Linked DNA regions of Homo sapiens. The protein of the gene in region 2 interacts with the protein of the main gene of each other region in a pairwise test. Each region holds a gene or a part of one and is shown on either strand. Other genes may lie near its edges.

Region 1 (3,500 bases), on a different chromosome or scaffold from region 2:
CTTACCCTGAGGCAGCTGCTGTGTCCAGCTCAAGTATCAGCCAGAGCAGCTGCTGAGTTAATCCACCAAATAGAGATCCTGTAGAAGCCCAAGGAAACTGGGGCCTTTGATGAGTTCAAATTCACCACAAGGCTGAATCCAAACCTTGCTTTTTCTTAGAGAATGCCCATGGGGGAGCTACAGCACTCTTCTGATCTAACAAAAAGTAGTGGTCCTGTCCATCACTCGTAGAGGAAGCTGATGTTTGGTTTTTGCCATGACCGGTTTTTTTTGCCTGTGTACTTGGGTGAAGAGAGAAGGTAAGGTATGTGATAAAGCAGAAATTGTTCAGCACCAGAAACCACAGGCAGTAAAATCGAGGGCATGTTTCACTGTGTACATGGATGTAAGGAAAGCACCAGGAAATAGAGCATTTGCTTCTAAAAGGTTTGCAGTTCAGCTGTTGTGGGCTGAATGTAGTTTACAGATCAGCAAGTGAGCCTGAGATGCTTCTGAGTTTTAAAGGCAGCATTACTCTGACACGGGACCACCTAGTAAAGAGAGATAAGACCACCACTGAATCAAAGAGAACTCTTACCACATCCTAAATACTCAAGGTAAGCCTAGTGATGAAATGTGAAATTCTAGCACTCTAACCTTGAACTGGACAAATATGAATCTGGTAAACTGGGTTCTGAAGTGGTGAAGGTGAATCAGACCTGCAAAATATTCTCAGAGGCCGGGAATTTGCTACTATAGTGAGGTCTCTATCAACCTGCCCATATCCCATTTCTGGGATCAAAGAGTAGTACTCCATCATGAACAGGTGTCCTTCTCTATGTGAAAGGCCCTTCCTCAAACACCAAGAACTATACAGTAAGGTTTTTTGCAATACTGGATGTCAACGCCCTCCCCACACCTGCTCCACCTGCCCCACCCTCCTCTCCCTAGGCAGGCACGTGGATGTCAGCATACATGACATGGGCTCAGTGGATCACAGCCTTGAAGCATGACACTCCCTCTGCAGCCTCAGAGAAGCAATACAAGACATATATGTAGTGACAAAGCCCTAAACCCGAATTCTCAGAATGTAAACAGAACCCTTCAGACAATTATTCAGATCCACAATTAGGTCCTGGTTCCAATAAAGCATGGAGTTTTCTCTCTCACCATTCACCCCTCTGAGTCCATGGCCAATACATCCTCCCACTCCTTTTTACCACAGATAATGTCTGAAGGAGTTGGGCAGCTGAGCAGACTGTAAGGACACTCAGGACACTCTAGGGTGCACAGGTTTCCAGCTGACTATTGGACATTGTGGGCAGGTCCTGCTCACACACAGTTCCAGACACGGCAGAGACCAATGGAGACGCCACCGCCATTGCTGAGCAGATGGCTAATGAGGCAGAAAGTCTATGAAGGGAGCTTCCAGAAGAGTCAGTGTCAACCCAGGGAAAAGTCAGTGAGCCAGAAATAGCCGAGGCTTTTCAGCACCATTGACCCTGAACTGCCTTTGAGCTACAGGAACAAGGAGTTGGGTCTCAGGCCCAGCAGGGTCATTTACACAAAAGTACATGGAAGTTGGAATCTTTAAATATTATTAATTAAACTGAGAACTTTCAAAAGGGTATTAAAGGATTATGATGTCAGTCCTCAAGCAAACCTCATAACAGCAATCAAGCAAAGGCTTGGCTATGAGAACGGTGACTCGGAAATAATATAAATGGACTGCTTGATGACTTTATGGCTTAGTTCTTGGTTCTAATTCCTGATAGCTGGTAAGTGCACATTGATCCTCTGGCTGTTAATTCATTCAGGTCTCACGTGGCTGCAATCCCCCAGATATTTCTTCAGTCAGGGCATCTTTCTCTCAGGGACCTCCTCTCCCAGGAGAAACTCTGTAGAGTCTGAGGGTTCAAAGAGAACCCACCTGCTCACCTGCATAGGAACTGCCTAGAACATCATCCCACGAGGAGTCACTTGGCCACCTCCTGGGCATCTCTGGTGTAAGCAGATGAAATGCTTGTACTTAATCTATGGAAACCTGCATTTTCCTGCAGGAGTCCTTTGCCGCTCCTTTCTCTACGAGCAGTAAGTCCTCACCGCATTATGGACACTTGAAACTGGCCTCCCCTAATGACCATTCTGGAGGGTTTGCTCCTCCTGGATTACTGAATAATTGCCCATGGAGTTACTGTTCTCAGTCAAGGTTCCCCTCCATGCAGGAATAGATAATGGAGCAATTCTCCTCAGAAAGAGGTCTTGAGGCGATTGCATTGTGTGAGCTTGAGGCCTCCAGTATAATCTGAGAACAATGTTCTTTTGGGAGGACTGAGCCTCAAGATTTGGGGAGAAATTAATCTCTGGGCCTATAGAAGAGGAACATTATGGAAGAAACTATGTGAGATGTTAGTCAAGGGAAAAGAAAATATTTCCTACCCATTAAAGTAAAAATCAAGCACTGAATCTGACTCCAGATGTAGTGAAGAATAAGAAAAGCCAAAAGCGCTAGGCAGATTACTAACTCCTGTGAGAAAACAAGAAGAAAGCTTCACTGATATTATCACAAATAATTATTTTCAACATTATTTCAATGGACTTTTCATTTTGGCTTGAGCCCTACTACGTGCTCTTCATGGGGTAGTGCACTACTGTTTTCAGAAAACAGCCCCTCCGCACACAGCTTCTACTACCATGTATAAGAATTGCCACACATTTTCTAGAAATAATCAGTCTACTGCATCTTTTACCTAAAAACCACCTCATAAGATTTCTTCCCACCAAACATTTATTTTTGTCATTTTATCTGTGAAAATAAACATCCAACCCCAAAGCATGTTACTTTTAATTTTCCAAAATCATTTCCTTTTACTACCTCATGGAATTGAAGTCTCTTGGGCAGATACAATCAAAATAATAAGTCATTGTCTGATTTTTGAGAACATGTTGTTTGTGGTTCATAATCAATCACCTGATGACCCAGGAGCATGGAACTGGAGAGTGCTTTCTGGCAGCTTCTTGCCTGGGCAACACTCACACCCTACACATCATTTAAGAATGCTCATGAGTATGGAGTCACCATGAACATTCTTCCTTGTGAAGAAATTGTAAAAGATTTCTTCTGTGGACTCTTCAAGACATGCAAACATCTAACCAAGTGTTAGGGGGAAGACATGGACTTCAAACTCATCATATAAAGAAAGAGTCTCTTGAAAAAAATCTCTGTGGAGGAGCACCTGTGCTTTTCCACTCCCAGGAGTACATGCTTAGGAAGCACAGGTTTAATCAAGCCAAGACTGTCTCTGTCTAGCTGTAGCCAGCACACTCCAAGAATCCATGAATCAGAGGTTATTCTCCAGAACAGACTTAAAACTCAAGTGTGCTCCTTGGGGGTTGCTGGGAATGACACAAAAGCAGGGGATTAGTCTTTAGAAGCCCAAGGAGGACACAGGGAAGGCTGAGCAAGGGCAAGTGGCCGTTGGTAAGGAGGACTGGGGACACAGCCAGTCACTGCAGATGAA
Region 2 (3,500 bases):
CTTTCCTTGGCAGGATGCTGCAGCAGCTATCGACAACATGGTATGGCTGGGAATCTTAATTCTAACTAAAGTTGCTTTTTGGTGGTACAGAGGCTCCTTATTCATATATCAGTGTTCTGGACTTCCAAAGTTACAAGGTTGCATGGGGAGGTAAAAATTCTCACATGAAAATATTCACTGTGAATTGATCACTTATAAAATTAGTTCTTACTCAGACTCCTTCGCCATTTCAGAATAATGTAAGTCCTCATCATCCTTGTTGACCAGTCTCTCACTGGCTCTCCCATGTTTAGGATAATTTGCAGACACAGTGCAAATTGATTGCACGGTGTAACTGCATATTTTGCAAAATAGCAGGATTTCATGAAGTGTTAGACCAATTTACAATTGAGAAGAGAAATTTAATTATGGCAGGTGCAAATCACTGATACAAATGATTTGGATATTCTGGAAAGGTCCTTGGGAAAAATGATGATGCTCTTTAGTATTTGTGCCTTCCTTGAGATCCTTTTAGTTTTCATGTCTGATAAGAAGTGCAAAGATACCATACTGTTGATAGAATTTTGTTGGAAAAATAATACTTCAGTGCCTGTTACTTTTCTTTCTTTCTTTTTTTTTTTTTTTTTTTTTTTAACAATCTTGAACTCATGAGTTCAAGACTTCTCAGCTTCTCAAGTAGCTGGAATTACAGGCTCAAGCCAACAGGGCTACCTGGGCTACCTGTTACATTTCTTTCTACCAAGTTACATTTCTTTCTACCGATTAGTGCATAGTTAGTCCTGAATATTAATGGTAAGAAACTTGTTTTTATTATTTTTAGTTTCATCACAGTAATTTCCCAGTCAGCCTTTTAAAATTTTTCAATTTTACCACGAAATCTTCATCACCACTTCAAGTGGAGTCACCTTAAATGACCTTTCCTGGTACCGATTATCTTTGGATAATGAGATGTTGTTTTATTTGTTGTTCTGTTATCCATTCACCAAACATATTCATCAGCTGTCAGAGATCATTTTTCTTTCATTTCAAAGCTTATCTTGACTTTTGAAGGTGAACTCAAATACTGGGAAACTGCATTTATTTTTGTAATTTTGGAGTGTTCTGAACCCAGAGTTACTTTTGGTAATACAGGTCTTTGTGTGCTGCTATGAAAGAAAGGGGTGTGAGTTCCCTGAAACCCACAGGTGGCTTTGGGGTGGCTGCATAGCTTACTGGTAGAGGCCCAGGGATTAAGGGAGGACAAATCATGAGTGTGTCTCAGAAGTATATGGAAAGCTGGCTGGCCCTCTTTTAACCTAAGAGAGTTTAAGCAGCTGGATTTTCAATCTTTTCAGAATGAATCTGAGCTTTTTGGACGTACAATTCGTGTCAATTTGGCCAAACCAATGAGAATTAAGGAAGGCTCTTCCAGGCCAGGTGAGTAGGAGCAACTTCCAGATTCCCTGTGATGTTCTGCAGTTTGGCCTTAGTTGCATTTTTTGTCTCTATTTACTTGGAAGTAGATGCTAAATGCTGCTTCCTGGTAGATAGGAGTAGATGATGGTTCACATTGGGAAGGGCATGCACCACCTTTTTAGAGAAACAAGTGAGTTTGAGCTTCTCAGCAAAGCCAAAGTGATTGTTTCTGTTATGAGAGAAATTCCTGCCTGAGCTCATCTTTCCCAGTTTTCTTGATATTCCATTCCTGGGGTCTCCATCAAGGGCTGAAATCAGCAAAGGCTACACCTTTGCTTTCGGCATAGCTATTTTCCTTAGCCCTACTGAGAGCTGGACTTCAGGGCCTACATTCTGGATGGGAACTTTCCTTACCCCTGGGAGTTCTCAGTGGGGAATTGTCTGGCATACAGGCCACATAGCATCTTCCACTTTGCTGACCAAAGCAGCTACTTTTCAGTTCAAGCTGACAGCTTGAATGAACATTTGTTTGATTCTTTCCTTTCAGTTTGGTCAGATGATGACTGGTTGAAGAAGTTTTCTGGGAAGACGCTTGAAGAGAATAAAGAGGAAGAAGGGTCAGAGCCTCCCAAAGCAGAGACCCAGGAGGTGAGAATGAAGCTCCTGCTTCCAGAGCACAGGCCGGCGCTGTCCACAGGAGACTTTTTTTTTTAAGTTTTAATGGAAATTTGCCAATATGTATATCAAAGTGGAGGGAATGAATAATGAATTCTTAGTACTTTGGTAAAGTCAATATTGAGTTCTTAGTACTTTGGTAAAGTCAATATCGAGTGAATTCAAGGGCGAAACTTTGGGTCTCTTGTCCATGTTGTGTTCTATGTGATGAGTGTCTCAGCTCTGCTCAGGTATGGATTTGTGATTATCAACTGACAGGGAGGAAGCTGAGGTGCCCCTCTTCACCCCTCCTGATCAGTCCCCCTCCTTCACTGAAGAGTTTGCCACAAGGGTCGTGGTCTTCCTATTCCTGTGCTAATGGAGGGGAGACAGAATAGGGTAGTGTCCCTTCCTTCAACCTGTACATGGGTTCAGGGTTCTCCAGTCCTACGGGAACCTGCTGGGGCACTTCCCCCTGATTCTCAGCATAGTCTCTGACAGTTGCTTCCTGGGCGTCCCCTCCTCTGAGTACTTTGTGAATGTTGTCATTCTTCTGTATTTCTTTCTTGGCTCATGGTTTCTCTCTCTTCTCTCAGCTGAAACAGTAGCAGTCTATCTCTAGTTTTATGCAGCCTCTGTTATGCTGTTGATCTTCATGGTCTCTTTCTAGTCCTGAGCTTCAGATATTTCTGCCTGCAAGTCTCATGGGCAGCTTAAGTTTGCCTAAAATGGATTCTCCCGCTTCTCTAATCCTGTCTTCCTGTGTTCTCAATCTTGGCTAATTTGCCACCATTCATCCACACATTGACCCACGCCAGAAATTTGAATGCAAATCAGAACTCATAAAGTGGCCATCACAGTCAGTGGAGTCCCCCTGGATCATCCTGTATCCTCTGCTTAGTCTTACCTACTTGGAGCACAATGCAAGGCCCAACATCTTCCACTGTCTTCTGAGCACTTAGGCCTGAGCAAGAGGGCTGCCCCCTTGCTTCCATGTAGTTAGCCAGTGTATATGCAGGGCCAGGCACAGAGGGACGAGGTGGTACATGGATGGGTCTGCCTAACTAGAGGACAGTGGGTGGGCTGGAACTGGCATTTGAAGATACTGAGAGTTGTGGATCATGGACCAGAAAAGTGCTGTTCTGTGACTGTGAAGCAAGAGGAGGAAGCAGATGCATCTGAGGGCAAGCATGATGAGATAACACCCCCGTGTGTGAGGCTCAGGTTAGCCAGTGCTGAGACCTCCTGTCGCTGGGCATCCAGCTGGGTGCTACGGCCATGGCTCCTGCCTCCTGCAGCCCTATCAGGGCCCAAGGCCTTCCCCGTCAGCACTTGCTCCAGCCTACGCACTGGAGTTGTGTTCTGGGTGGGTGTGTAGAATACTCGCACTCCTACTTAGGGCGTCAGGGAGCTCTCTCTAACTAGCAATTTCTTCTGCACCTAGGGAGAGC
Region 3 (3,500 bases), on a different chromosome or scaffold from region 2:
CAATTGTAGTTTGGTTACTTCAAGAGAACAGCAAAGGACAATATATGCTTTATGATGTTTACAATGCAATATGAATATACTACATTACTTATTAAATATTCTTGTCAAAATATTTAACTTATATCCAATCAAGCCGTTAGACCTAAATTCCTATTTATAAAACATACAGGGATAGAGAAACAAGTTATATAACACTACTAGGAACCAGTCAATACAGAATATGAGACAATTTACAAACTAATTGGCCTAATCTGTTAAATGGTCACCGTCATGAAAATGAAGAGATACACTCTAGAAAAGAGACATAATAACCGCATAACGATCAAAAGAAATTTGAAACGAATTCTGACTAAAACAAAAAATAGGTGTTAAAGGCATTTTTCTGTATATTTTGGAAAATGTGATTAATGACTAGATATTAGGTGATATAATGTTAATTTTCTGAAGTGCAATAATGTCGATGTGGTTATATAGAAGAAAATCCTCATTTTAAGGAGATATGTGATACAGCGTTTATGGATAAAATGTCATGATATACATAATTTCCAAATGTTTCAGTCAAATAAATATATACATAAACTATATGTGTGTATATATGTGTATTTTACATATATATGTAAAACTGTGCATATGCACACATACAACTAGACAAAGCATATAAGGCAATATGTTAAAAATTTCAGAATTTAGATGATGGGTATATAGATGAACATAGTATTCCTTCAAAATTTTTCTATTTTTGAAAAAATTCCATGAAACAGTTAAAATTTTTTTTTTTTTTTAAAGCATAGAGAATACAAATGGTTAGCTAATAAAGTTGTAGTGGAAAAATGCAATACAGAGCAAAACCAACAAGGACACAAAATTGTTCCAGTTTAGCACATACTGTGTGATTGTGGATCTTCACATCCTCCTCATACTTAGAGCAGGCAACAGCCCGCTCCTGTCCTTTGATGACTGTCCCATGTCTTGAGTACTCCACATAGTCTTCAGTCTGGGCTAAAAGCAATTCAGCTGGAGGGGCATCCAAATGTTCTTGGCCACCATACTAAAAGGACATTGGACATTATTCAATACATTTTACAACCTGATTTGCATTTAAATTTCCAGAAAACATTTATTTCTAATCAGAAAGAAAGGGAACATTCTTTACTGGGTTTTGTTATAGAAAGCACAGTAGGAAAAAAAAAGCCACAAATTTTTTCTGAGGCAAATAGAAGATGTCTCAGTTGCTATTCATCTGTTGAGTACAGTAAGTTACAAGATGGCCATAAATTCCTCTTATCTTTCTATACATGCCCTTTTGCCACAGGGCTTTGCTTTTCTTCCCATCAAGAGACGAAGTCTTTCTCTGTCCCTTGAATCTGGGCCTGACCATGTTATTTGCTTTGACCAATGAAAGTTGGCAAATGTGATGCAAGCAAAGGCACTTATGTACCACAGCACACTTTTTGCTGCCACTCTCTAGAACTCTGAGAATGCCATTTTAAAAAGCTGTGCTACCCTACTAGAGGATGAAAGACCACATGGGGTGGAGATGAGCTGTCCCAGAAGAGGTCCCCTTAGGACAATTAGCCTGTTAACTGCTAAACACAAGAGTGAGGCCATCTTAGTTCATCATCTAACCTCAGCTGAGCAAGCCCAGACCAGGAGACTTGGCCAACTGTGAGAAACAATAAATGTTTATTTTAAGCTATTAAGATTTGAGGTAGCTTGTTTTGCTGCAAAAGCTCATACAAAATTACCATCTGACTAAGAGAAAGGAAGAAAAGGACTATTCTTCATGGATTAAGAGGGCTCTCTTTGCATTATTTTCCAAATGTAAAACTAACGCTTATTAACTAGTAACTTCTCTTTAACAGAAGTTCTTCTTTAGCATTTTGGTCAAAATTACCTTTTCCAGGATGCTTTCTTTCTGCTGTTCTTTGAAATCTTCTTTTTTGACTTTGAAGGACTTATACAACAGCTCTAGCTTTGTAGGATCTGCCTGTAGATGCACTTCAGATCCCTTGTCATAGGCTTCCCATGCAAACACTAGAGTAATTCAAAACATCTTAGTGAGTTGGCAGCTGCATTACTGTATGCTTCTTGAAAACAAGCTTTAAACAATCCCAAACGTCTTATGAGCTGATATAAAATGGCTTGACATAGAGGAAACACTTACACTGTGTCTGAGCCATTGAAATGGTATCTCCTGTGTACCTAACAAAGTTATCTCCAGCATAACTCACTCTGTAAATACAAATAAAGAAAATGTTTCAGAGATTGATTTAAGGAAAATTAATTCGTAAAACTGAATCTGAATTAAAATGAACACCATCTATGGTCAGGTCAGAAAACAATTAACTTTCTCTCATCTTAAAATCTGTACATTTAACTTGATACTTACTCATCTGGATTCTTTCCTGCATTGGCATAAGGATTCTCTCTCATTGCTCTAGTTTTTGGATCATAGTAGGCAGAATTTGGATCTAAATTCCTCAAATACTAGAAGAAAAAAATATTTAAAGAATTAATGTTTACTCACAGCAAAAAGATTTCAGCAGACTAGTTGGAGGAGTTGAACATGATCAATTAAATAAATGTGTGTATACATTTCTGGGGTTCAGGTGAAGAGAAAAAACAGAATGAAACCTTATCTTAGAATGACTCTGACTATATTATCCATATGCTACCCAGAGTCGATAAAATTTATGCTGGGAAGACAAGTATTTTTCAAATATGTATGTTAAGCTGACAAGACTTACTTTTGCAATATCTTCTCGAATCCTGAGATTCCGGACAGTAATTCGTCTCTTGGAGTCAAAATTCTGTCCAGGCATGTCAATATCATCTGCATATTTATCTTCATCCTCATCTTCACTATTATGATCTTTTTCCTAAAAGAGGGAGAGGAAGGAAAAGTAAGAAGAAAAGAAAGCAGCATGTAGTTCTTTTTTTTCCCCTTTCCCTTTAACCAAACCCTTATTTACTTGTGTTCTTTAAAAGCTATTATTAGTGTTATTTATTATTAGCCATCAGAAATTTAAAAATTTAACATATACTCAGAGACAGCAAATATGTATTACCATCTGAGAATTTGGTTCCTCTTCTCCCCACTGGTGTTTTGGAGAATTCTGCATCATGAAAGAAGAAAAATCATTCATAATCTCATTCCACTTAATCCAATTAACTTTATTATTAAGATAATAAAGTATTATTATCTTATTATAAATAATATATTTATATAATAAAATATATTTTATTATATATTATATTTATATTATATATAATAAATATTTATTATATAATATATAATATGTAACTTATAAATAAGTATTAAGATAATAAAACTTAATTCTAACTGAACAAACTCTCACACTTCTCAGTTATAATGAGCGCAAAAATTCTGAATACAAGAGTGCCATTGTAAATAATTTTATTACACTGTCTATAAAGCCAGCAAATTTCAAGAGAATTTTAATTAAGATTATAACCACAAAATGGTAACAGAAAGATTA
Region 4 (3,500 bases), on a different chromosome or scaffold from region 2:
ATTTCAAGAAGGGACTTCAAAACCAAACCAAACCAAACAGGAAGAGCCTGTGCTATCCTAATGCCGATGATCACATGTCCCTTCTGTATGCTATCTCGGGTGAGACACCAACATCCTTACCCTGGTCCAATGCAGAGACCAGTACTATTCAACCCACCTTGATATGCTTCTTTACCACCTCAGTTCTTTGTAACCGCTGGTCCTCTGGAATCCCAATTAGCTCCCATATTTCCCGAAGGTGATTTAGGGCTTTCTGCAGACATACTATGGACTCCTCCGCCAGCACCTCACTGAAAACCAAAAACTAAGGCCTGTTAGTTACATCAGTCACAGCCTCTGGACTAAAAGCACTATTTTCGAGAACTAAAAAGACTAGCTTCTCAGTGGCCTCGAGAAAAAAACAAATTGAAAACAAGCATTCAGCTTAATTCACCTTTAACCACTCCCCATCCCTTTTCCTACCAAATGCCACTAGCAATACAAGATTTCATATCATATTACATCATGGAAGCTCAACCTTCTGGACTTTCAACAATGATCTACCTATGGAAGTATAATACAGAATTATAAATACTTTTACTAAAGAAAAACCGGACAAAAGATGTTGGTAAAATAAACTAACACAAGAACTTGCTGGTGAGAAACTCCTGCAAAATGTTTGGCAATTTATTACTATTTTTTTGGTGTTTTTTTTTTGTTTTTTCTTTTTTTTTGAGACAGCATCTTGCTCTGTCGCCCAGGCTGGAGTGCAGTGGTGCAATTTTGGCTCACTGCAACCTCTACCTTTTGCGTTCAAATGATTCTCCTGACTCAGCCTCCCGAGTAGGTGGGACTATAGGCAGGTGCTACCACACCCAGCTAATTTTTGTATTTTTAGTAGAGTTGGGGTTTCGCCATGTTAGCCAGGTGGGTCTTGAATTCCCGGCCTCAAGTGATCCGCCCTCCTCGGCCTCCCAAAGTGCTAGGATTACATATGTGAGCCACTGTGCCTTGCCATTTTATTTAATTAATTTATTTATTTTTATTTTCTTTTTTTTTTTTGAGACAGAGTCTCGCTCCGTTGCCCTGGCTGGAGTGCAGTGGTGAGATCTCAGCTCACTGCAACCTCCGCCTCCCAGGTTCAAGTGATTCTCCTGCTTCAGCCTCCCAAGTAGCTCAGATTACAGGTGTGTGCCACCACACCCAGCTAATTTTTGTATTTTTACAAAAACACAAAAATCCACCCACCTCGGCCTCCCAAAGTGCTGGGATTACAGGCATGAGCCACTGCGCCCGGGCCTAGTATTCTTAAATTGCAACCGGCAGCTCAAAGAATGGCTAAAGTTAAAAAGCCATTGAGATGGGGTTTCACTACGTTGGCCACGCTGGTCTCGAACTCCTGACCTCAAGTGATCCACCTGCCTCGGCCTCCCAAATTGCTGGGATTACAGGCGTGAGCTACCATGCCTGGCCTATTCTTCTTAAATTACAACTAGCAGCTCAAAGAATGGCTAAAGTTAAAAAGACAGCATTAAGTGTTGGTGAGTATATAGAAAAGTGAGAACTTTCATATGCTGCTGGCATGGTGTAAATTGGTACAACTATTTTAAAAACTGTTGGCAGTCTATCTACTAAAGCTGAACCCAGCAGTTCTACCTCTACATACATACCTAGCAGAAATGAACACATACGTTCACCAAAGACATATATGAGAATGGTTAGAGAAGCACTACTCATAATAGCAGGGAAACAGAAACAGCCTAGATGTCTATCAACAGAATGAATAGTACATTCCTACAATGCACTAATGCAGCAATGAAAATGAACAAACTGGCTGGGTGCAGTGGCTCACACCTGTAATTCCAGGACTCTGGGAGGCCGAGGGGAGCAGATCACTTGAGGTCAGGAGACCAGCCTGGCCAACATGGGGAAACCCTGTCTCTACTAAAAACACAAAAAATTAGCTGGGTGTGGTGGTGCGCCTGTAATCCCAGCTACTGGGGCGGCTGAGGCAGGAGAATCGCTTGAACCCGGGAGGCAGGGTTTGCAGTGAGCCAAGGTTGCAGTGAGCCAAGATTGTACCACTGTACTCCAGCTTGGGCGACAGAGCGAAACTGTCAAAAAAGAAAATGAACACACTACACATGATATGGATAAAGCTCAAATTATTATATTTCTATTTTATTTATTTATTTATTTTACTTTTTTGGGGTGATGAAATAGTTCTAGATCTTGATGGCGATTATACAACAGTATACAATTGAAACTACCTGTAAAGCGAGTCTGTTTTACTGTGTATGAATTATACCTCAAATCTTTTCATTTTTTTAATGAAGTAAAATAAACAACTAAAAAATAGTTGTAAGGGGAAGAGGAAGGAAAAAAAAAACACTTTAGGCTGAGCAAATGCCACTAGATATGCAAATGTGTATCACTATGTGATTCCGTTGACAGAGAGTTCAAAAACAGGCAAAACTGGCCAGGCACGGTAGTTCACGCCTGTATTCCTAGCACCTTGCAAGGCCGAGGCAGGAAAACTGTTTGAGCCCAGGAGTTTCAGATCATTCTGGGCAACATAGTGAGACTCTGCGTCTTAAAAAAAAAAAAAAAAAAAAAATTAGCCGGGCACGGTGACGTATGCCTATAGTCCCAGCTACTCAGGAGGCTGAGGTGGGAGGATTGCTTGAGCCTGAGAGGATGAGGCTGCAGTGAGCTATGATCACTGCACTCCAAAGCAACACCCTATCTCAAAAACGAAAACAAAAAAAGCAAAAACAAAACCAGGCCAAACTAATCAATGCTTTCAGAAGTCAGGATAGTAGTTCTTTTGGCTCAGGGGAGGCAGTGACTGGTAGAGGGCTTCTGGGTTGCTGCTTACACAGGTGCATCAACTGTGAACAATTCACTGAGTTTACACTTGATTTCTGTACGTTTCTGAATGTATGTTATTCTTCAATTACCAAAAGCTTATTTTAACAAAAAATTATTTATCTAAAATACAAATTTAACTGGCTTCTGTATCTTATCTTTTAAGAACAGCTTACTTTAAAAATTATCACAATTAGTCTGCTTTACAGAACATTTAAAGAATAGAAATTTTTCTCCCTTTTCTTAGGTATAACAGGACAACTAAGACTGCCCTGGCACCAGAGAAACTACAATCTAGATGTGCTCTGCTTCCAGTCGGCCGAGAAGCCTGCAGCAAATCACCTAAACACTTAAGGTCTTTGTGTGCCATCCACACCCAACTGCAACTAGAGACTTTCATTAGCCCCTTTCTGTCTCAGAGCTTTCGGTGGTTCTACAAGTCACCAGCCTGGATCTCTAACAATGTGTCTCTCCAAAGCTGTTAATACATTCACATCCAAAATATCTCCAGCCACGAAATCCTAGTTTAGAGGTTGCCCGTCCTTGTTGAAGAAACATTTCTACACAAATACCTGTTGCCTATACCAGATGGCCATACCAATACCCAAATACTGACAAACGTTTAAAAGAATTTACGGTACTCCCTTCACTTT
Region 5 (3,500 bases), on a different chromosome or scaffold from region 2:
GGACAATTCCGCTCCCAACTTTCCACACAAGCCAAATCTATGACATCTTGAAGCTGACTACTACAATGCTCACCTAATTAATTCCCTGCCTCTTGCTCCCTCCAAATCCAAATTCTTGCTGGGTGCAGTGGCTAATGCCTGTAATCCCAGCACTTTGGAAGGCCAAGGCAGGTGGATCACTTGGGGCCAGCAGTTTGAGACTAGCCTGGCCAACATGGTGAAACCCTGTCTCAAAAAAAGAAAAAAAACAAACAAACCCAAATTCTCTTTTTCAAATACCACTGTGCTTACAACTCTTCTTACTTCCTACTGTTTTCCAAATAAAGAACAAAATCCTGAAGATGGCCTTTGACCCATTTAGTCAAATATCCTTTTAAAATACTCACTGGACATACATGTCTGCAGGTGTATATACAAAAAGATGCCTAAGACACGCTGTTAAATTTTTTAAAAGAAGCATGATGAAAAATAGCATGTAGAGTACAAACCCTTTTGTGTTTGAAAAAACATGTGAAGGCGTGGGGAATAGAACAGATGTATATGAACCATATACATGAACCAGGGATTGGGGGCAGAAAAGATGATTTATTGAAACTCACCCCTTACAGCATATTGCTCAAAAATAATTTTTATCACTTCTGTGTTTATTATTATACATTTTATACATTACATATGTATACTATATTATTGTAAATTTAATAATGTCTTACTTTCATAACTTTTTAAGAATATTTTTAAAAGGTGAATCAGAAATAATACTAGTAATAAAATCTTCATGTTTACTTTTTCTCAAATTCCATCTAAATCCAAATAAACCCTATGGGATTTGATACCTCTAATCTGAGCCAAAAGTTAGAAGGCAAAAAATAATTTATGACTCTTCAGCACCTAAAGTTTTTCTAGTCACCATTGCCCTGACGACCAGTTTGAAACAGAAAAAGGGTTCAAGTTATGATCACATTTAGAAGTTCAGCCAAGATCCAACTTGGTCCACCCCAATCACATTGTATAAAATTTAAATTCATTCCTACCTTGATTTGACAATCTCTTTTTCATATATATCTTCAATAACCTGTTATAAAAATATAAAAATGTTTAATATCTCAACAACTTTTTTCAACCCTAAATTGACAGTTTTTAATGAGTGAGATTATATAAAATAAGTTGGTTTAGGAAAGCCATCAAATATTACTGCTATTGAAATAATGAGATATTTAAAATAATCCCATTATATTCCTCGAAATATGAAATTAACAGAAAGCAAAGTAGAAAAAACAAATAATAAAACAGAGCCCTAGATTCATTAAAATGATGTGCTTATAAAGATTTTTAGGGAAAATAAAAATTCACAAGATCAGGATTTTTTTTAAACTTAAAGTGTATAAATGTTATGAGACTCCATTTGAGAGTCATAACTGTGTGCCTGCAAAACCCAGAGAGAAAATAATTTAAAAGTGTGAAGACATAACAGACACAAATTCTAATTGTTACATCTCTTTATCCAAATGAATATGATAGAGCTTCAGAATTTCCATTCATTTGAGTGAGGGTGGGCAGAATGGTGTACTACTTAAGAATTCAGACTCTGGCCAGGCACGGTGGCTCACGACTGTAATCCGAGCACTTTGGGAGGCCGAAGAGGGTGGATCATGAGGTCAAGAGATCAAGACCATCCTGGCCAACATGGTGAAACCCTGTCTCTACTAAAAATACAAATATTAGCTGGGCGTGGTGGCGCACACCTGCAGTCCCAACTACTTCGGAGGCTGAGGCAGGAGAATCACTTGAACCCGGGAGGCGGAGGTTGCAGTGAGTCAAGATCGCGCCACTGCACTCCATCCAGCCTGGTGATAGAGCGAGACTCCATCTCAAAAAAAAAAAAAAAAAAAAAAGAATTCTGACTCTGGAACTGTACATCTCAAAAAAAAAAAAAAAAGAAAAAAAGAACTCAGACTCTCGAATTGGAAGACTGGTTCAAAACATCTGCCTTCACTACTGATGGCTGGAACTCTTAGGCAAGTGCCTGACCTCTCCAAGCCTCAGTTTCCTTACCCACAAAACAGATCTAATAACACAAACTACCACACAGGGTTACTGAAAATAAAATAAGACAGGGCATATAAACAATTAGTACAAATACTGGCATACAGTGAGCCTTCACTAACAGTTATCAATAGCAGCAGTAGTAGTGCTAGCATTAATAATAGTAAAAAAAAATACTACTGTAAAATTATGAAGTGCTTTAACATGCTATAATATTATTGTATGGTAACTATAATGTCTTTTTTTTTTTTTTTTGAGATGGGGTCTCACTCTGTCACCTAGGGTGGAGTGTAGCAGTGCAATCACAGCTCATTGCAACGTCTGCCTTCCAGTCTCAACTATCCTCCAGCCGCAGCCTCCCAAATAGCTGGGACCACAGGCATACACCACCATACCCACCTAATTTTTTGTATTTTTGGTAGAGATGGGGTTTCACCATGTTGCCCAGGTTGGTCTTGAACTCCTGAAGTCAAGTGACCTACCGCCTCAGCCTCCCAAAGTGCTGGGATTACAGTCATGAGCCATGGTACCTAGCCTATAATATCTTTTAATTGCTCCAAGTACATTTGTGAAATAAGTATTTGTGAGTGGTAAAGGGAGGGAGGCGATAAGGAAAACAAGTCTTGTTCAATCTAGATGAAATGCTCTGTTATTGTTTTCATCAAATTTCAAATTAAATAATAAAATAAAGATTACTGGTTGGCCGGGTGTGGTGGCTCAAGCCTGTAATCCCACCACTTTGGGAGGCCAAGGTGGGCAGATCACCTGAAGTTAGGAGTTTGAGACCAGCCTGGCCAACATGGTAAAACCCCGTCTCTACTAAAAATACAAAAATTAGCAGGGCGTGGTGGCGTGCATCTGTAATCCCAGCTACTCAGGAGGCTGAGGCAGAAGAATCGCTTGAACCCAGGAGGTGGAGGCTGCAGTGAGCCAGAATCGTGCCATTACACTCCAAACTGGGTGACAAGAGCGAGACTCCACCTCCAAAAAAAAAAAATAAATAAAAGATTACTGGCAAAAACAAATATATATTCGTAAGAATTTAAGTTCAAATAAAGTAAGAAATTTTGGGTAAAAAGTTCAGTTTTACCAACAGTGCCTAAAGCATCACCATTAAATTTATAATGGCAAAGCTTAAGAGTCTTCATTACTTGTTGAATGGTATGCAGTGTCAACATCTATTTCATTTAAAGACCTCACTCTCTTTAAGGGACAGGGTCTCATTCTGTTGCCCAGGCTGGAGTGCAGTGGCCTGATTACAGCTCACTGCAGCCTCAAGCTCCTGGGCTCAGTCAGTCATCCTCCCGCTTCAGCTTCCAGAGCAATTGATACTACATGTGTGAGCCACTGCACAAGCCAATTTTTTTAATTTTTTTGTAAAGGCGAGATCTCACTACTGTCCAGTCTAGTCTCAAACTCCTGGCTTCAGGTGATCTTCCCTCTTTGATCTCCCAAAG
Region 6 (3,500 bases), on a different chromosome or scaffold from region 2:
GAGAAGAGATATGAAGCTGTCACTCCCCAGCTTGAAACCCTTTGATGGGGTGTGTGTGAAAAACACGGCGGCTCATGATCTGATCTCTGTGGTCTCCTTGCCACTCCCCACCTCCTGCCACCCCATCCACTTACCCACCCCCTGCACACACAGTCTCCTGCCTCCGTGACCCCTATGCAGGACTCTTCCCTCTGCTGCACTGACTGCCCTCTCCACCTTCCTCCGTCTGGCTTGGCAAACTTCTAATTAGCCTTCAAGCTTCAGTCAAGCGTCTGCTCCCCTCTAAAACCTCCCAGGAACAGCAGACACCTGCACTTGACAAATTTTTGGCTTCCTACTATGTGCAGGACACCCAATCTTCTCACTATGTTGCCCAGGCTGGACTTGAACTCCTGGCCTCAAGTGATCCTCCTGCTTCAGCCTCCCAAAGTGCTAGGATTGCAGGTGTGAGCCACTTCACCTGGCCAGGACACTGAACTGTGCTCAACAATTACACGTACTTTTTACATGAAATCTTTCCATACTGTCTCTCTGACTGGATTCTGAGGTTCTCAAAAGAGTGAACTGTGCCTTTATCTTTACATCCTGGCACCAAGTAAGGTGCCTGGCACCCATGAGTGCTCTCTATCTCTCCCACTCTCGCTGATAAAGGAGCCCAAACTGGGCCACTGACTTGCTTTCCAGGCTGGAGTGCAGTGGTGCAATCACAGCTCACTGCAAGCTCGAACTCCTGGGCTCAAGCAATCCACACCCGGCTAATTCTTTAAATTTTTTGCAGAGGCTGGGGTCTCACTATGTTGCTCAGGCTAGTCTTGAACTCTTGGGGTCAAGAGATCCCATCTCGGCCTCCCAACGTGGTAGGATTACAGGCTTGAGCCACCAAGCAGGCCTTGCTTCTTTAATACAAACCCCAAAGACTCCCAAGGTCCTCACTGCCCTGAGGTTAAAACTGCCCTGACTGTAAGGATAAAGACAGACAGAGGCCGGGCGTGGTGGCTCATGCCTGTAATCCCAGGACCTTGGGAGGCCGAGGTGGGCGGATCACCTGAGGTCAGGAGTTTGAGACCAGCCTGGCCAACATGGTGAAACCCCACTTCATTAAAAATACAAAAATTAGCCGGGCATGGTGGCGCATACCTGTGGTCCCAGCTACTCAAGAGGCTGAGGCAGGAGAATCATTTTAACCCAGAAGGCAGAGGTTGTAGTGAGCAGAGATCGCGCCCCTGCACTCCAGCCTGGGTGACAGAGAAGACGCCATCTCAAAAAAAAAAAAAAAAAAAAAGGCAGAGCAGCTGCTTGCCCTGGCTGAGCCTCAGAAGGATGCGGCCTTGGAGCACTTGCCAGCAGGCCCGGGGATGGTGGGTACTCCTGGTCCTGCCTCACATTGCCTGGTCCTGGCTGTCCTCAGTAACAAGTGACTCCCTGGCTCGAATGAACAAGTGCTTCCCTCTGGGCCTCAGGCTCCTCTTCTGTAGGCTGAGGGTGTTGGATCAGATCACCAATTTTCAAACACTTTTGGACTGCAGCAACTCTCTTTTTATCCCCAAAAGAAATTATACGTGGAAGGGTCACAGGCAAATAAAATTGAGGCTACTCTGACTGGAGGTCAGGTGTGGGGCCCACCAAGCCTCAACCTCTGGTCCCCCCAACCCCATGGCAGCATTCTAAGGGGTTCACTGACATGTCTCCCTGGAGGGAGCACCCAGTTTGAAAACCGACGAGCTGGGTGCTTCCTCGAACCCTTTGTGATCAGAACACTCATTTTGTGCACTCCCTGCCACCTTCCCTTTGGCCCCAGGGCCTGAATCGGAGAGACCTGTGGTGGTAGACCCCTGTGAAAGGAACTGTCCCAGAGTGGGAGCAAACCCAGACCTCATTCTCCCAGGCTCATTAGTACAACACTCTTGCAGAAGGCCCTGTCCCCAGAGCCCTTGATCTTCCCTGAGCCCAATCCCCAAAGTAGCAGTCTCTTCAGAGCCAGCCTGGTGACGTCAGGACATGTCAACCCTAGAGGAGGGACTGGCAGCCACGAGGGTGGGGGTGACCTCAGACAGCCAGGACAGGAGCAGGAAGGGCTGGGAGGGAGGAGAGGCCCGGCGGGTCCAGCCGGGAGCCCGCGCCCATACCTGGCATGCTGGAAGTACTCCTTGTGATGGTTGCGGTAGAAGACGGAGAAGCGGAGCATGCGGCCTGCGATCTGCTCAGCTTTCTCCTGAAGCTGAGCCAGGTGCTCCTTGGCATAATCTGCAAGATCCCAGATGCGGTAGGTGAGCCGAGGGCCAGCTGAGGAGCACAAACACCTCCTGTCCCCACCCCACCCCACACTGTGTGTGCCGGCCAACCTCTGTCCGCCAGAGCAGCAGGGGAGACTAGACAGTCGCAGAACCTTAAACTCAGATGGGAACAGGCCAGCTGGCCTCTGCTGGAAACACAGAGCGCTGCATACTGTCTGTCGTCATCACCTCTGCAACCACATTGCCAGAGGCTCCGGGCTCTCCGGGTCAGAAAAAGGCAGAGGGCTGCCCAGTTATCCTGCCAGGGTCCTCAGGGGCTGTGATCCCAGGCCATCCTCATGTGAAAAGAGGACCCCTGGGAAAAAGGAAGACTTGAGACGGGAGGGCTTGAGGTCCTTTTGGGAAAGTCTCTCAAATACAGTAGATAGGAGGCTGCCCACACCACCCCCATGGAAGCCAGCTGTAATTACAGGTGACGGCTCGTGAGGGTCTAGGGAGAACTGAGCCCAGGCAATGTTTAGGCAGTCCTGGGTCTGGAGCAATGGCTCTCAGCTTGAGCATCTCAGGAGAAACAGGGAAGGCTGGAAACAGGATAGCAACATTGAACCCTGGGGCCCCAGCAAGGCTGCTGCTGGCACATACAGCTCCTTGGTACAAATTAGAAGATGCCCTTCCCTCTTTGTGGCTGCATCCCTGGCCAGGGTGCTTGGTTTGGAGAGAGGAGTGTGGACTGGATTGCAGCCAGATCTCCAATTTGAATTAAATGCCCACTGCACATGGAGGTCTCAGGGGTAAACCAAGAAGCTTTCCCCACCAGGAGCAAGAGGCCTCCAGAGAGTGGGGTTCTGCAGCAGAGCTAAGAAAAAACACCACTCAACCAGCAGCAGTGGTTCACGCCTGTGATCCCAGCACTTTGGGATCACTTGAGCCCAGGAGTTTGAGACTAGCCTGACCAACATGGAAAAACTCCATCTCTACAAAAAAATATCAAAAATTAGCCAGGAATGGTGGCATGTGCCTGTAGTTCCAGCTACTCAGGAGGCCAGGAAGCTGAGGAGGGAGGATGGCTTGGGCTCGTGGGGAGGAGGTTGCTGAGGCTGCAGTGAGCCATGATCATGCCACTGCATTCCAACCTGGGCAACAGAGCAAGACCCTGTCTCAAAAAATAAAAATGAAAAAGGCCAGGGATGGTGGCTTATGCCTGTAATCGCAGCACTTTGGGAGGCCAAGGCAGGCAGATCACCTGAGGTCAGGAGTTCAAGATCA
Region 7 (3,500 bases), on a different chromosome or scaffold from region 2:
TGCACTGAAATACAGTATTTGCTCAATACTGTAAAGCTTATAAAGCTCTCCCATAAATGTTTTTATCTTAATAAACAATGAAGGCCGGGCAAGGTGGCTCACACCTGTAATCCCAGCACTTTGGGAGGCTGAGGCAGGCAGATGATTTGTGGTCAGGAGTTCGAGATCAGCCTGGCCAACGTGGCAAAATCCCATCTCTACCAAAAATAAAGAATAAAAAAATTAGCCGAGCGTGGTGGTGTGCACCTGTAATCCCAGCTACTGGGGAGGCTGAGGCAGGAGAATTGCTTGAACCTCGGAGGTAGATGTTGCAATGAACCAAGATTGCGCCACTGCACTCCAGCCTGGGTGACACAGCAAGACTCTGTCTCAGAAAACAAAACAAAACAGGCTGGGCGCAATGGCTCACGCCTGTAATCCCAGCACTTTGGGAGGCCGAGGCGGGCGGATCACGAGGTCAGGAGATCAAGACCATCCTGGCTAACATGGTGAAACCCTGTCTCTACAAAAAATGCAAAAAATTAGCCGGGCGTGGTGGCAGGTGCCTGTAGTCCCAGCTACTCGGGAGGCTGAGGCAGGAGAATGGCGTGAACCTGGGAGGCGGAGCTTGCAGTGAGCAGAGATCGCGCCACTGCACTCCAGCCTGGGTGACTGAGTGAGACTCTGTCTCAAAAAAATAAATAAATAAATAAAAATAACAACACAGCATGCTTCTCAAAAATCATAAAATTTGAAAATATACTAATATCCTAATTTGGTCCTGATTAATCAATTATTCTTAATTACCTAATCAAGGAGAAGTCAGAACAAATGCACAAAAGAAAGAAAAGAGAAATAACCACACAGAGAGGGAATGAAAAGATCCATAAGCACATCTGTCAACTTCATGCACATAAACCTAAGAACTTGGCTGAAAGAGATAATTTTCTAGGAAAATATAATTTTATTTATTCTTTTTTTTTTGAGATGGAGTCTCACTCTGTTGCCCAGGCTGGAGTGCAGTGGGGTGATCTTGGCTCACTGCAACCTCCGCCTCCCAGGTTCAAGAGATTCTTCTGCCTCAGCCTCCTGAGTAGCTGGGATTACAGGCGCGCGCCACCACACCGGGCTAATTTTCGTATTTTTAGTAGAGATGCGGTTTCACCATGTTGGCCAGGCTGGTCTCAAATTCCTGACCTTGTGTTCCACCTGCCTCAGCCTCCCAAAGTGCTGGGATTACAGGCGTGAGCCACTGCACTTGGTATATTCTTTTTATTTTTTTGAGATGGAGTCTCACTCTGTCACTCAGGCTGGAGTGCAGTGGTGTGATCTTGGCTCACTACAACCTCTGCTTCCCAGGTTCCAGCGATTTTCCTGCCTCAGCCTCCCGAGTAGCTGGGATTACAGGCACGTGCTACCACGCCCAGCTAATTTTTTGTATTTCTAGTAGAGACGGGGTTTCACAATGTTAGCCAGGATGGTCTCGATCTCCTGACCTCGTGATCCCTCCATCTCGGCCTTCCAAAGTGCTGGGATTACAGGCGTGAGCCACCGCATCCAGTCTATTTTTTATTTAAATTGTCTAAATGTACTTATTTATAAAACTGACTCCAGAAGACAGGGAAAATCTTAATACTTCAATAATCATAAAATAACTGGTGAAATTTATTAAAGAGCTATCCTCTTCAAAAAAGCGTCCCAACTAGATTCATAGGATAATTGTATCAAAACATTAAAGAACAAATAATTCCAATACTATTTACATCACTCCAGAGGATTAAAAGAAAAAAAACTTTCCAACTTACTTCCACGAGGCAAGTAAGTATGTTACCAAAAAACCTAGAAAGTGATCAATAAAGAAAGTAAAGACCAGCCTTACTTACATCAGCATAATAATCCTTTTTCTTTTTTTGAGACAGGGTCTCGCTCTGTCACCCAGGCTGGAGTACAGTGGTACAATCATAGCTCACTGCAGCCTCGAACTCCTGGACTCGAGGGATCCTCCTGTCTCGGCTTCCCGAGTAGCTGGGACTACAGGCACGCACAACCATCCCTGGCTAATATTTGTATTTTTTGTAGAGATGGGATCTCCTCATGTTGCCCAGGCTGGTCTCAAACTGCTGGGAACAAGCATTCCTCCTACCTTGGCCTCCCAAAGTGCTGGGATTACAGGTATGAGCTACCACACCTGGCCTAACATCAAACTCTTTAACAAGAATACCAGCAAAAAGAATCCTGCAAACATTAAAGTGGTAATAACATAACACAACCAAGCTCCCTGCATTTCATGACTGTGAGATGGTTTCATTTCATACAATCTACTCATATAATCATTTTATTACTAGAGCTAAAGAGAAAACCATGATCGTCTGCACATATGTTGAACGGGCATATGATAAAATACAACATACATTCTTGATTTTAGAGGCTCTTAATAAAAAGTAATAGATATATAAGGAAATCCCCATCTCAACCCAAAGCCAGCATTAGGTTCAGTGGGATAACGTCAGAAGTATTCCTTCTAAAGACAGGAACAAATTGATCTTACCAGTTAGGATAGGCTAACATGCTGAAGTAACAACCCTTAAAACAACAAAGGTAGGCCAGGTATGGTGGCCTGTGCCTGTAATCCCAGCACTATGGGAGGCCAAGGAGGATCACTTGAGGCCCAGGGGTTCAAGGCCAGCCCTCGCAACATAGCGAGACCCCAGCTCTACAAAAAGAAAAAAAAAAATGAGCGGGGTATGGTGCCATATACCTGTAGTCCCAGCTACTCAGGATGCTGAGCCCAGGAGCTTGCGGCTGCAGTGAGCTATGATCAAGCCACTGCACTCCATCCTGGGCAATAGAGCAAGAGACACTGTCTCAAAACAAACCAAAAACCACAAAGGTATATTTCTCACTCAAACTATATGTCTGCAGAGGGGTAGGCTGGGGCCCTGCTCCCTGGCCTCCTCACTCCAGGACCCCAACTGATGGAGCCTCCACCATCAGGAACACCGCTCGTCTCCATGGCAGGAAGGAAAAGAACCAATTCCACACTGGTTCTTGAAGATTTCCACCCAGAAATGACACACACGACAACATTCCCATTTCACTGGCCAAGTGAGTCACCAGAGCCAACTGAATTTCAAGTGAACAGGGAGTACAATTCTATTACATGCCCAGAAGACAAACACATAGAAATGCTCATGAATAGCACACCTACGACTACCATTTACTTGGAAATTAACCCATAACCCAGTATCGGACTTAATGAAAAACCACAGAAGCAATTCCATTAAAGCCAGGCACGTGGCAATGACATCTCCAAGCACAATTCTTAACACTGTTCTGGACACATAAAGCAACACAGTCAGGCAAAGGAAGGAATGTGGAGGTAACATGATCACACTGCACAGATGCCATGATTATAGACACGAGAAACAAATCAAGAAGATCAACTGGAAACTACTATAAGTAGTAAAAGGATAAAAGAACATGGCTAAGGACAAAATCATTACAGAGCAATCAACAGCTTT

What was found.
Region 1: the proteins of PPIE (region 2) and TRIM55 interact in a two-hybrid assay, tested with the Homo sapiens proteins (one large-scale study listed by BioGRID and IntAct).
Region 3: the proteins of PPIE (region 2) and SLU7 interact in a two-hybrid assay, tested with the Homo sapiens proteins (one large-scale study listed by BioGRID).
Region 4: the proteins of PPIE (region 2) and PRC1 interact in a two-hybrid assay, tested with the Homo sapiens proteins (one large-scale study listed by BioGRID).
Region 5: the proteins of PPIE (region 2) and AQR interact in binary tests that used the Homo sapiens proteins (3 or more experiments, as listed by UniProt).
Region 6: the proteins of PPIE (region 2) and PHYHIP interact in a two-hybrid assay, tested with the Homo sapiens proteins (one large-scale study listed by BioGRID and IntAct).
Region 7: the proteins of PPIE (region 2) and GTSE1 interact in a two-hybrid assay, tested with the Homo sapiens proteins (one large-scale study listed by BioGRID).

The regions. Positions count from the first base shown.
Region 1 is NC_000008.11:66,154,629-66,158,128, reverse strand, and holds part of TRIM55 (tripartite motif-containing protein 55), read right to left. Parts: intron 2,507-3,500; coding exon of another isoform or gene 2,419-2,506; intron 1-2,418. UniProt on the Homo sapiens protein: E3 ubiquitin ligase that plays an important role in regulating cardiac development and contractility, muscle growth, metabolism, and fiber-type differentiation.
Region 2 is NC_000001.11:39,741,882-39,745,381, forward strand, and holds part of PPIE (peptidyl-prolyl cis-trans isomerase E), read left to right. Parts: intron 1-13; coding exon 14-40; intron 41-46; exon of another isoform or gene 47-150; intron 151-1,334; coding exon 1,335-1,416; intron 1,417-1,942; coding exon 1,943-2,043; intron 2,044-3,493; coding exon 3,494-3,500. UniProt on the Homo sapiens protein: Involved in pre-mRNA splicing as component of the spliceosome. Combines RNA-binding and PPIase activities.
Region 3 is NC_000005.10:160,405,582-160,409,081, forward strand, and holds part of SLU7 (pre-mRNA-splicing factor SLU7), read right to left. Parts: intron 3,117-3,500; coding exon 3,069-3,116; intron 2,880-3,068; coding exon 2,748-2,879; intron 2,488-2,747; coding exon 2,390-2,487; intron 2,233-2,389; coding exon 2,165-2,232; intron 2,035-2,164; coding exon 1,895-2,034; intron 1,049-1,894; coding exon 887-1,048; intron 1-886. UniProt on the Homo sapiens protein: Required for pre-mRNA splicing as component of the spliceosome. Participates in the second catalytic step of pre-mRNA splicing, when the free hydroxyl group of exon I attacks the 3'-splice site to generate spliced mRNA and the excised lariat intron.
Region 4 is NC_000015.10:90,984,536-90,988,035, forward strand, and holds part of PRC1 (protein regulator of cytokinesis 1), read right to left. Parts: exon of another isoform or gene 3,095-3,500; intron 291-3,094; coding exon 158-290; intron 1-157. UniProt on the Homo sapiens protein: Key regulator of cytokinesis that cross-links antiparrallel microtubules at an average distance of 35 nM. Essential for controlling the spatiotemporal formation of the midzone and successful cytokinesis.
Region 5 is NC_000015.10:34,959,743-34,963,242, forward strand, and holds part of AQR (RNA helicase aquarius), read right to left. Parts: intron 1,073-3,500; coding exon 1,032-1,072; intron 1-1,031.
Region 6 is NC_000008.11:22,222,100-22,225,599, forward strand, and holds part of PHYHIP (phytanoyl-CoA hydroxylase-interacting protein), read right to left. Parts: intron 3,118-3,500; exon of another isoform or gene 2,343-3,117; intron 2,245-2,342; coding exon 2,127-2,244; intron 1-2,126. UniProt on the Homo sapiens protein: Its interaction with PHYH suggests a role in the development of the central system.
Region 7 is NC_000022.11:46,303,370-46,306,869, reverse strand, and holds part of GTSE1 (G2 and S phase-expressed protein 1), read right to left. Parts: intron 1-3,500. UniProt on the Homo sapiens protein: May be involved in p53-induced cell cycle arrest in G2/M phase by interfering with microtubule rearrangements that are required to enter mitosis. Overexpression delays G2/M phase progression.